2 separate regions of the Homo sapiens genome follow, and region 2 is linked to region 1. Evidence: fine-mapped expression QTL. A gene starts in region 1. The other region holds a variant in brackets. All regions are shown on one strand. Distances are from middle to middle. Region 1 holds the start of SMARCC1 (SWI/SNF related BAF chromatin remodeling complex subunit C1). Region 2 holds the start of LOC124906234 (a long non-coding RNA gene).

Region 1 (5,377 bases):
CTGCACTTTGGGAGGCTGAGGCAGGCAGAGAGCCCAGGAGTTCGAGACCAGCCTGGGCAACACTGCAAAACCCTGCCTCTACTGATAATACAAAAAATTAACCAGGTGTGGTGGTTCGTGCCTGTAGTCCCAGGTACTCAGGAGGCTGAGGTGGGAGAATCACCTGAGCCCAGGAGGTTGAGGCTGCAGTGTGCTATGATCTCACCACTGCACTCCAGCCTGGGCAACACAGAAAGACCCTGTCTCAAAAAAAAAAGAAAATTCCTAAATGAAGTCTCAGGTATCTTCCATTTGAAAAAGAAGGTAAATAATATCTATCATTTAGGACTGCTATGAGGACTTTAAGTGAGTTATACTTTAAGTACCCGGCACATGGTAAATGCTCAGTTGTTCACTGAATGCATGAGCTGAATGCAAGAGTTTGAGGTTGCAGTGAGCTATGATCACGCCACTGTACTCCAGCCTGGGCAACACAGAAAGACCCTGTCTCAAAAAAATAAAGTAAAATAAAAATAAATAAAAAATGACACTAACAAAATCATGTTTACTGAGACTGAAACTGTTGTCTGCTCTGAAAATGCAGTATTAAATGCACTAGAAACGGTTAGTTAAAACCAATGCGTACACCAAATAGAAATGCACTGTGTAGAAAAGAAGCAAAGAACTTTGTGATAATATTTTCACCACTTCAACGCTAACACCCAGAGACTGAAAAGATTCTGGCTGTCAGGCCTAGGGTATATACGTTTCTCAATCTCAGTAGACCCTAGAAATACACTCTGGCTTTACAAAGTCCTGAGAAGTCAAAGGTAACTTTGTCTATAAAGTCTCAGGGATAGTGAATCAACATTAGCCTAGTGGTCTCAATACTGCTGGGCAATTCCTCAAACTGCTTTGTAGCCACTTCCCTACCCACCCAAACAAATATCGAAGGATTATCCATGTCTAAAGCTTCTTGTAGTTGATCCCAAACTGATGCACACTGAACAGTGCGGAGAGGTAGAAATTACTGAAATTTGCCTTTTTCTACTCTCTTCCTTGATATTATTCAAAGGAATATGCCTGTAGATTATTTTTCTTTGTTAAAGCTTCACTGAATTTAAGACCCAAAGCATTGGCTAAAAGGAATGTAATAAAGAAGAATTAACCAATATTTTCATAACATATTCAATTCCATTAGCCACTTCTGGAAGCTCTATTACTTACATTTAAAAAGTGACCAATTTATCACTGTGTAAGAAAGGGCAATATTACTAAAAATCTACAGTCTAAATGTAATTTCAGAGGAGGAAAAGTCCAGACACCTAAAAATATAATTACTGTCTCTCACTTCCTCAAACTTCAGATAAGAAATGTAATTTTTCTAGCTGACCTTCAAAAACAAGAAAGAAAGAAATGATCATTTCTGGGTCTTTGGTTTTTTTTTGTTTTTTTTTTTTTTTTTTTTTTGGAGACAGTCTTACTTTATTACCTAGGCTGGAGTGCAATGGTGCAATCTCGGCTCACTGCAGCTTCTGCCTCCTGGGTTCAAGAGATTCTCCTGCCTCAGCCTCCCGAGTAGCTGGGATTACAGGCATGTGCTGCCACACCCGACTAATTTTGTATTTTTTGGAAAGACGGGGTTTCACCATGTTGGTCAGGCTAGTCTCGAACTCCTGACCTCAGGTGATCCACCCGCCCGGCCTTCCAAGCCGCGCCCGGCCAGAAATGGTCATTTCTGAATGTACCACGTGTAATGCCAAAGGAACCCAAGATCCCTGCCCATGCCTAATAACTGCCAAACACTGACAGGCTTCACTGAGCTGCTGAGGCCAAAAAAATAGGTTCCTAAACTAGTTTATGTTTTCATTCATTCAACAAATATTTACTAAGCAGCCACTAAGGGTAAGGCAATAAGTATCAGCCACGTTCCCGGATACACTGCAGTGAACAAAGCCCTTGCTTCAGTGCTATGATTCTCAATAGGAGAAAGTACAGAACTAAAGAGGGTGATAGGAAAACTTCAGAGGCTGGGGAGCCTTTTCGGCTACCTGCTTCATTACACCCTTTAAGGGAGTCCTCCTGAATATTTACACAAAAGGGAAGTTGGAAAAAAAAAAAACATTTGTTATAAACAAAGGATTAAGTCAAAACTTTGAAAACTACTGACTCGGCGGAACTTCCGTTCCAAAGGTAGGAGAAATCAGTAAATGAATAATTTCAAAATGTGGTAAACACTACGAAGAAAATAAAGGTGACACAAGAAAAGTGCTCTAATAAAAACTGGGTTCTTGGGGAAGGCCTCCCTTTAGAACACTTTACGTACAAGCGACCATCAACTCTCACGCCACACAGAACCAGAAGCACGATGAGGTAGAACCGTCGTTAATAGTTCTCATCCATCCTAGAATTCATATTGCCTGTTATTAATTAACGAATACAATCATCCCAGTCGTTTAGCAATTCAACAACAGGTAGCAAACCCCCTCGAGACTTTGAATACGCTCTAAACAAAACTTGAAGCTGCTTTTACCACGCTTGCTCGGTCTTTAGGGATCATTGTTCACACACCTAAGGCAGCTGACAAAAGAGAGAGAGTCACACTCGCTTAGTGGCTGAGCTCGACCTGCTCTGGCACACGAGACTGAGCAGGGGCTTTCACCATGGGTGCGTAGGCTCAGAGGAGAGAGCCCCGAACCCCAGTCAGGCCCCGGGATCGCGGGCGCCCAGAGCGGGCGGCGGGGGCGTGGCGGGCCCGGCGCCTGCCTTTGTTGTCCCTCGTGGCGTGCGGGGGGGAGGGGCGGCCCGAGGCCCGCGAGGCCAGCTGCCGCCTCCGGCCCCGGTCGCGTGGTCTCCCGGCCCCCACGGGCGCGCGAACCCACCTTCTTGTAGTGCTTGCCCAGCCAGACCCGCACCGAATCCAGCTGGGACACCGTCTCCGGGCTCTCCCAAAACTTGGTGGCCGGGCCCCCATCCTTCCGTCGATAAACAGCTAGGCCTGCGGCTGCCGCCGCAATCCCCGAGCCCGTGGCGCCTACCGCTGTCCCCGGCCCGCCGCCGCCCGCCGCTGCGGCCATCGTCGCAGCCCGTCGTCCCCACAGCCTGGCCCACCCCGGCCCTCGCGGTGTTTCCCGGTCGTTCCCGCGCGCACCCCCGCGCGCGTAGCCGCCACTGCCGCTTCCCGGCCCCGCCCAGCCAACCCTCTTCCGGCGCGGACGCCCGGCCCCGCCCCATCTGGGAACTGGCACTGTATCTGACGCGAGCCAGCGCACGCGCATGCGTAGCACTCGTGCGGCCGTGCCTTGGAATAGCACGTCCTGCGGCCTCAGCCGCCTCTTCCGCCATCCTCCGTAGGCTGCATTCTGCCCTAGTGAGCGCCGGTTTTTGAGCCTTGCTCTTCCCTCGCTACCGACGTCGAATCATTATGCGGTCAACAACCGCAGGTGGGTTATGTGTCATAGCCCGCCTCCGCTGGAGGGAAAAGGCCTGGTGCGAGAAATGCCCAAGGGAAAGCCTGTCTAGGGTATCGAGTGCTGGCCGAGGGCCCTGCACCCGGACTGGGACTGCGCCGGGCCCCGCTTTCCCTCAGGCCCTCCACCCCCAGCGGCCCGGCGGCATTTGTGAACAGCCATCTGGGACTCCCACGCCTAGGCTTTTCGGCTTCACAGACCTTCCACTCCCTCAGGGGTCCAGCCACAGCGGCTCATTCCTGCCCCAGGGGCCCTTGCACTGGCTCTTTCGAGACCTCAGCAGGTCTTCCCTTCTGATTTGCACTTACGAGACGCGTTCAGATTCACTGCTTCAAAGGACTTCAGAAAGTAGTTGTCAGATCTTAACAATCTTGAACAACTGTTCACACCCATACACTTTCTGCATAGCGCTCACCACGACCCGGCGTTTCTAGTTTCTCATTTACCTTCCACATAAATTACATGAGAACCTAATCTTAACTTGTTCACAGGTGTATCCTGAACACCTGAGACAAGGAACAGATGTACAGTAAATACTTGATGAGTTAATGAATGGCCCACATAGAAGCCGAAAATTTTTAAATTATTAACAAGGTATATTGGCCGGGTGCGGAGCACTTTGGGAGGCTGAGGCGGGAGGATCAATTGAGCCCAGGAGCTCTAGACCACCACACCCATCCCCGTCTCTACAAAAAATACAAAAATCAGCCAGCGTTGTGTTGCAAGCCTGTGGTCCTAGCCTCTTGGAGGGCTGAGGTGGGAGGATCCCTTGAGCTGGGGAGATGGAGGCTGCAGTGAGCTATAATCGCGCCACTCACTACACTTCAGCTTGGGCGACAGAGCGAAACCCTGTTTCAGAAACATAAAAAGTATGACTGGCCATAATGGAGTTGTGAACATAATGCTATATGATCGCAGAGAAGCAAGTAACTAATTGCTTGTGAGAACGTGACTAACTGCTGGTAAGTTTCTGAGATCTTTTAAAAATGAGGGTGTGTACATGTTTTCAGGATCTCCTGAGGGCTGTGTCACGGACAGTAAAATATATTAAATAAAAAAGTTAATAGAATGTGATCAAGAGGGCCAGGCGAGATAGCTCACGCCTGTAATCCCAACACTTTGGGAGGCCAAGGCAGACTGATCACGAGGTCAGGAGTTCCAGACCACCCTGGCCAACATGGTGAAACCCCGTCTCTACTAAAACTACAAAAATTGGCCAGGTGTGGTGGTGCATGCCTGTAATCCCAGCTACTCGGGAGGCTGAGGCAGGAGAATTGCTTGAACCCAGGAGGAGGTGGAGATCGCAGTGAGCTGAGATCACGCCACTGCACTCCAGCCTAGGCGACAGAGCCAAACTCGTCTGAAAAAAAAAGTTTTTAATTTGAAACTTTCTCAGATTTAACAGAAAAGTTGCAAATATAATACAAAGAACTTTTCCTGAATCATCTAAGAGTAAGTTGCTGACATAATACCCATCACTATCAAAAAGTTTAATGTGTATTTTCTACAGACAAGTATAGTCTATATATTCTCTTACATAATCACAATACAATCATTTATACCAGGAAATTAACACTGATGCCATCCCCAGACCCCATTCAGGTTTTTCCTATTGCACCATGAAGTCCTTTATAGCAAAAGTTTCCAGTTCAAAATCACACTTTGCATTTAATAAAGTTTCATCTCCTTCAATATGGAACAGTTCCTTAGTCCTTAAACCTTAACAACATTGATACCTATGAAGATTACAAGGCATTTATTTTGTAGAATGACCCTCAATTTAAGTTTGTCTGATGTTTGTATCTTTGTGTTCTTTGCATTGCATTCTATCAGGTGGTGCATAATTTCATTTCTCCTGTTACATTGATGACAGAGTATCATCCAGGTTTCTCTACTGCGAAGTTATTCTTTTTGCCTTTGTAATTAAT
Region 2 (5,377 bases), 180 kb before region 1:
AAGACCAGCCCGGCCAAGATGGTGAAACCCCATCTCTACTAAAAATACAAAAATCAGCTGGGTGTGATGGTGGGCACCTGTAATCCTAGCTACTCGGGAGGCTGAGGCAGGGAATTGCTTGAACGTGGGAGGCGGAGGTTGCAGTGAGCCGAGATCATGCCACTGCACTCCAGCCTGGGTGACAGAGTCAGACTCCGTCTCAAAAAAAAAAAAATAAATAAATAAATAAGAAGAAGAAGAAGAAAAAAGATGGGGTCTTGCTACGTTGCCCAGGCTGGACTAGACCTCCTGGGCTCACGTGATTCTCCTGCCTCAGCCTCCTGTGTAGCTGGGGTTACAGGTGCATGCCACCATGCCCAGCTAGGATAGAAAGCTTTAAGAAGGGATGCAGAGGAGTTAGTGCCTAGAGCAGAGAAAAAGTGCCTTTGCAGAGAAGTATGGGCTGAATGTCAGGCTGATGAGACAGAAAGGAATAGGAGATGGAGATGGCACTCTGCAAGTTCCTTCTTTTTTTTTTTATTTTATTTTTTTAAAAGAGATGAGGTCTTGGCTAGGGGCGGTGGCTCCTGCCTGTAATCCCGGCACTTTGGGAGGCCGAGGCAGGCAGATGACGAGGTCAGGCATTTGAGACCAGCCTGACCAACATGATGAAAATAAAAAAATTAGCCAGGCGTGGTGGCACGCACCTGTAATCCCAGCTACTAAGGAGGCTGAGGCAGGAGTTGCAGTGAGCTGAGACTGCGTCACTGCACTCTAGCCTGGGCGACAGGGCGAGACTCAGTCTCAAAAAAAAAAAAAAAAAAGAGAGAGAGATGAGGTCTTGCTCTGTCACCCAGGCTGGAGTACAGTGGTATGGTCATAGCTCACTAAAGCAGTGAACTCCTGGGTTGAAGTGATGCCCCCGCCTCAACTTCCTGAGTAGCTAGGATTACAGGTGTGCACCACCACGTCAGCTAATTTATTTATTTATTTTATTTTTTATTTTTTAATTTTTTGAGACGGAGTCTCACTCTGTTGCCCAGGCTGGAGTGCAGTGGTGCAATCTCCGCCTCCCGGGTTCATGCCATTCTCCTGCCGCAGCCTCCCGAGTAGCTAGGACTACAGGCACCCGCCACCACGCCCGGCTAATTTTTTGTATTTTTAGTAGAGATGGGGTTTCACCATGTTAGCCAGGATGGTCTCGATTTCCTGACCTCATGATCCGCCTGCCTCGGCCTCCCAAAGTGCTGGGATTACAGGCGTGAGCCACCATGCCCGGCCCACGCCAGCTAATTTTTTATAGAGATGGGGCCTTGCTATGTTGCCCAGGCTGGTTTCAAACTCCTAGGCTCAATGATCCTCCTAACTCAGTCTCCTGAGTTGCTGGGACTATGGGTGTGAGCTATTGTGCCCAGCCACAGGTTCTGTAAAAAGAGGCATCCTCGGGATTGGAGACAGAGCAAGAAGGAAGGGCGAGCATGGAGCTGAGATGGAAAATGAATTTGGGTTTGGTATCTGACTGCTGGGAGTGTGAAGATGGGATGACGTGAAGAGGACACAGAACTTTTTGCTTTGGGAACAGATGTAGGCTGGGCAGCCATATAGTGAAATACAGAGGTATCGGTGAAGGGAAGGTATAGAACTCCCAGAGTTTCAAATAGAGCAGTGGCAAACAGAGACTTACTATTCTAAGATTCTCCACAAACTGCCAAAGAGGCACCTTTGTTTTTAAGGTGGTACTGTCCCAGCTCCCTTTTGGAAGCCCTTTTTTTGTTCTCTTCCTACCCCACATCACCTGCTAGGCCATTAATAAAAGCAATGCTTTGTTTTCCACACTCTAAATCACTACTAATGATTCTCTAATGGTATTCTAGGTGGCGTGAAGGACAACAGGAGATGATTTTGTTGCTGCTGGAAACAGGAGGCCTACTTTTAAAACTAAAAAGTACAATATTCTAGCCTGCAGACGAAAGAACACTCCTAATGGACTTGTTGTGACAAAGGGAAGCCATATACTAGGAGAAATAATGCTGCCCATGTTTATCAACAGGTACAGGTTGCTCGCTTCCACCAAGTCCGACCTGGACAGAGGCCTTAAACAAGTTAGGAAGAACATATTGCCGCCCTTCACAGGTCTCCTCCTCTCTCTCTCAATCCCTGAGCTTTGGTTTCCTGAGATTTTATTGATTAAAGCTATGTATGTGGCCCAGTGCAGTGGCTCATGCCTGTAATCCCAGTACTTTGGGAGGCTGAGGTGGGTGGATTACTTGAGGTCAGCAGATCAAGACCAGCCTGGCCAACATAGTGAAACCTCGTCTCTACTAAAAATATAAAAATCAGCTGTGTGTGGTGGTATATGCCTGTGGTCACAGCTACTTGGGAGGCTGAGGAGAAGATAGTTTGAACCTGGAAGGTGGAGGATGCAGTGAGCTGAGATCACGCCACTGCACTCCAGCCTGGGCTACAGAGGGACTCTGTCTCAAAAAAAAAAAAAAAAAAAAAAAAAAGAGAGAGAGAGACACACACACACACACACACACACACAGAGACAAAGACAGAGAGAGAAGAAGGTGATGTAAAGATGGAGCAAAGAGAGACGTGGCCGTAAGACAAGGAATGCTGCAAGCCACCGGAAGTTGGAAGAGACAAGGAACAGGATTCTTCCCTATATACCTTGGAAGGAGCATGGCTTTGCTGGATATTGGACCTGATTTCCCAGAGAGTAAGAATACATTTCTCTTGTTTTAAGTTATTCTGACAGGCTGTGCGCAGTGGCTCACACCTATAATCCCAGCACTTTGGGGGGCTGAGGAGGGCGGATCACCTGAGGTCAGGAGTTTGAGACCAGCCTAGCCAACATGGTGAAACCCTGTCTCTACTAATAATACAACAATTAGCCAGGAGTGCACATGCCTGTAATACCAGCTACTTGGGAAGCTGAGGCAAGAGAATCACTTGAACCCGGGAGGTAGAGGTTAGAGTGAGCAGAGATCACACCACTGCACTCCAGCCTGAGCGACAAAAGCAAACTCTGCCTCAAAAAAGTTATTATAGCAGCCTCAGGAAACTACGTAGGAAACATGTGCTATGCCTTAGGCACTATATTTAAGAGTTTTATAAATGTTAACTCATTCAATCCCCATAACAACACTATAAACCAGGCACTATTATCCCTG[T/C]GGAAGAAAGGGAAGGACACAAAGATTAAGTAGCTTGCCCAATGTCATAAAGCATGTAAATGAGGGAGCTCAGATCTGATACAGGTACTCTGATTCTAGAGATGGTGCTTGCAGCCAGTGTGCACCCCTGACAATCAAGGTCTGGGGGAGAGGGGTCCAACAGGTGCTCAGAGACGACGTGATGCAAACCCTGGTGTCACCAAACTGATTGATCCATTATTTGCCCCATGCTCAGCTCCAGACAGAAATTACTTTCTGAACCCGCAATTCAGAATATATGTTCCAGCAGAGAAATCAACTATTCAAGAAATAATCTGGCAAAGAGGAGCATCACTGGCTGATTGACAAACACCCACAAAGTGATGTCTACCTATCATGCACTGGGAAATGCCTGCAGGCTCTTGCTCTTAGGCCCAGTAGTACTATTTCCAAAGCTATCTGCTCAGTGGCAGTGGCCCATTTACCTATTACCCTACATCTTTATGAATACAAGCTGGAATAGGGCAGCTTTAGGGTTTTCCAAGGCTGTTAGCCCAACAGCTAAAAAAACCTTTCTTTTCATTTATTATAAATTCTAAAGCCTTGTGAAAAAGATTCTTTATCCTATTGTCACAAACAAGGTCATAAAGCCACTGGGATACAGGTGTTCTGAGTATGAGAGGACAACGGCTCCTTGGCAGCAAAAATGAAGGTCTAGAGGAAAAGCAATTTACTTCTGCTTATGGCACCCTGCAAAAACAAACATCTCTCAGGAAAGCAAGAGGTACCTAAGAGTGAATGATGTCCCTTTGCCATTCAGAGGTTCCTTCTGTCAGATGCTAAGCAACTCAGCACTGGTGTACCTGGGGCAGTGGGTTTAGAGAAAAGACAGGAAAGGAGGTAAGAATAAGGTTGAGTAAGGGTTGACCGTGCCAGGTGATTTGACAGTTATCTCTCTGAAGTCTCCAGGTTGTTAGTAAGATGATGGTAAGGGCCTAGTTTTGAGATAAGGAAACTAAGCCTCAGAGAAGCTATGTAATTTGGCGCAAAGTCACAATGAACAAGAGACTGAGCTGAGATTCAAATCCAGGTCTCTCTGACCCTGAGGTCCATTCTCTTTTCCTTTACCCCACCTTCCTTTCTAAGGAGTAACTTTCCCCTTAGAAAAGGTAACTTCCAAGGATGAAATCTGAAATGGGGTAGAATTTAAGAAGACTCAGGAGAAGACAAAATCAATTTCGCACAAAGCAACCCTTGTCCTTAAGAAGTCTAAACATCTTTATGGGTTTTTGTGGTGTCTGATATAGGTCTCACCACTTTTAAATGAACAACAGTGTCTGCATTTCCATTAATTCTTACTAACATTAAGAGATCTGGCCCACACAAATCTGAAATGCATAGGAACAGGCCTTAGCAAACAAAGTAAAGGATGTATGTCTTTTCCATTAAAAAAAAAAAATCAGGTATTTTTTCCCAGCAGACAGGGAGAGGAAGAAAATGAGAGAGAGAGAGAGAGAGAGAGAGAGAGAGAGAGAGAGAGAGAGAGAGACATGGCATCAAAACAGCAGTATCAAAAGCTTAGAATGGTGGGAGTCTGACCTACATACAAGCTTTTTTTCTTTTCTTTTTTCTTTTTTTTTTTTAAACAGCAGGCATCTGAAGCCTGAAAAATTAAAAGCTTTGCTAAAATTAGGTTTAACTAGTAGAAAAATCCCTCATTCTCTCTCAGGTTTATTGTATCTTTTACTAAAGCATTACACTCATGACACTTAATGGAATATTAGTAAAGGACCTTAATTTTATACTTTGGGTTGGGAAAGGAGGGTAGGAAAAGAAAGTGAATCTAGGAAAGGGAACCTGTGAATTTCCAGTCTTGAGCACATTTCATCAATCCATTTCTAACTGTCTATAGCACATCCTCTGGCTGAGTCTCCTGGAGAATGGAAATAACAAAATCAGGGCCAAGTGAGGGGAAGCCCAGGCTCCTCAGAGACTGTGCCTTCCCCACAGCAGCTTCCTGGGGATGCCTGTGACAGACTCTCTTTGTTGAAGACTGGGCCCTCACTGTTCTCTTTGTGAGGGTAACCTGCTACTCCGGAAAGTAGCATGGCTACTCCGGAAAGTAGCATGTAAGTAGGACCAAAGGCACCGCAGATAATAAAATCTTGGCTGATGTGATGGGCTACGGCTTTTTTTTTCTTTTTTTTTTTTTTTGAGATGGAGTCTCACTCTTGTCGCCCAGG

The links. PIP is the estimated chance that this variant, and not a neighbour inherited with it, causes the effect.
Region 2: its variant is fine-mapped to the expression of SMARCC1 in lung (TOPMed, PIP 0.94).

What each region holds. Positions count from the first base shown.
Region 1 is chr3:47,778,742-47,784,118 of GRCh38, forward strand. SMARCC1 (SWI/SNF related BAF chromatin remodeling complex subunit C1) reads right to left here and starts at 3,152. Exons shown (of 28, transcript NM_003074.4): 1 at 2,862-3,152. The coding sequence starts at 3,056. RefSeq lists silencers at 2,626-2,865, 3,046-3,265, 3,676-3,725, 3,836-3,895 and an enhancer at 3,098-3,392.
Region 2 is chr3:47,596,366-47,601,742 of GRCh38, forward strand. All of the region lies in intron 26 of SMARCC1 (SWI/SNF related BAF chromatin remodeling complex subunit C1), which reads right to left. It overlaps LOC124906234 (a long non-coding RNA gene), which reads left to right and starts at 3,858. Exons shown (of 3, transcript XR_007095902.1): 1 at 3,858-3,918. The variant T/C (reference allele first, on the strand shown) is at 3,156.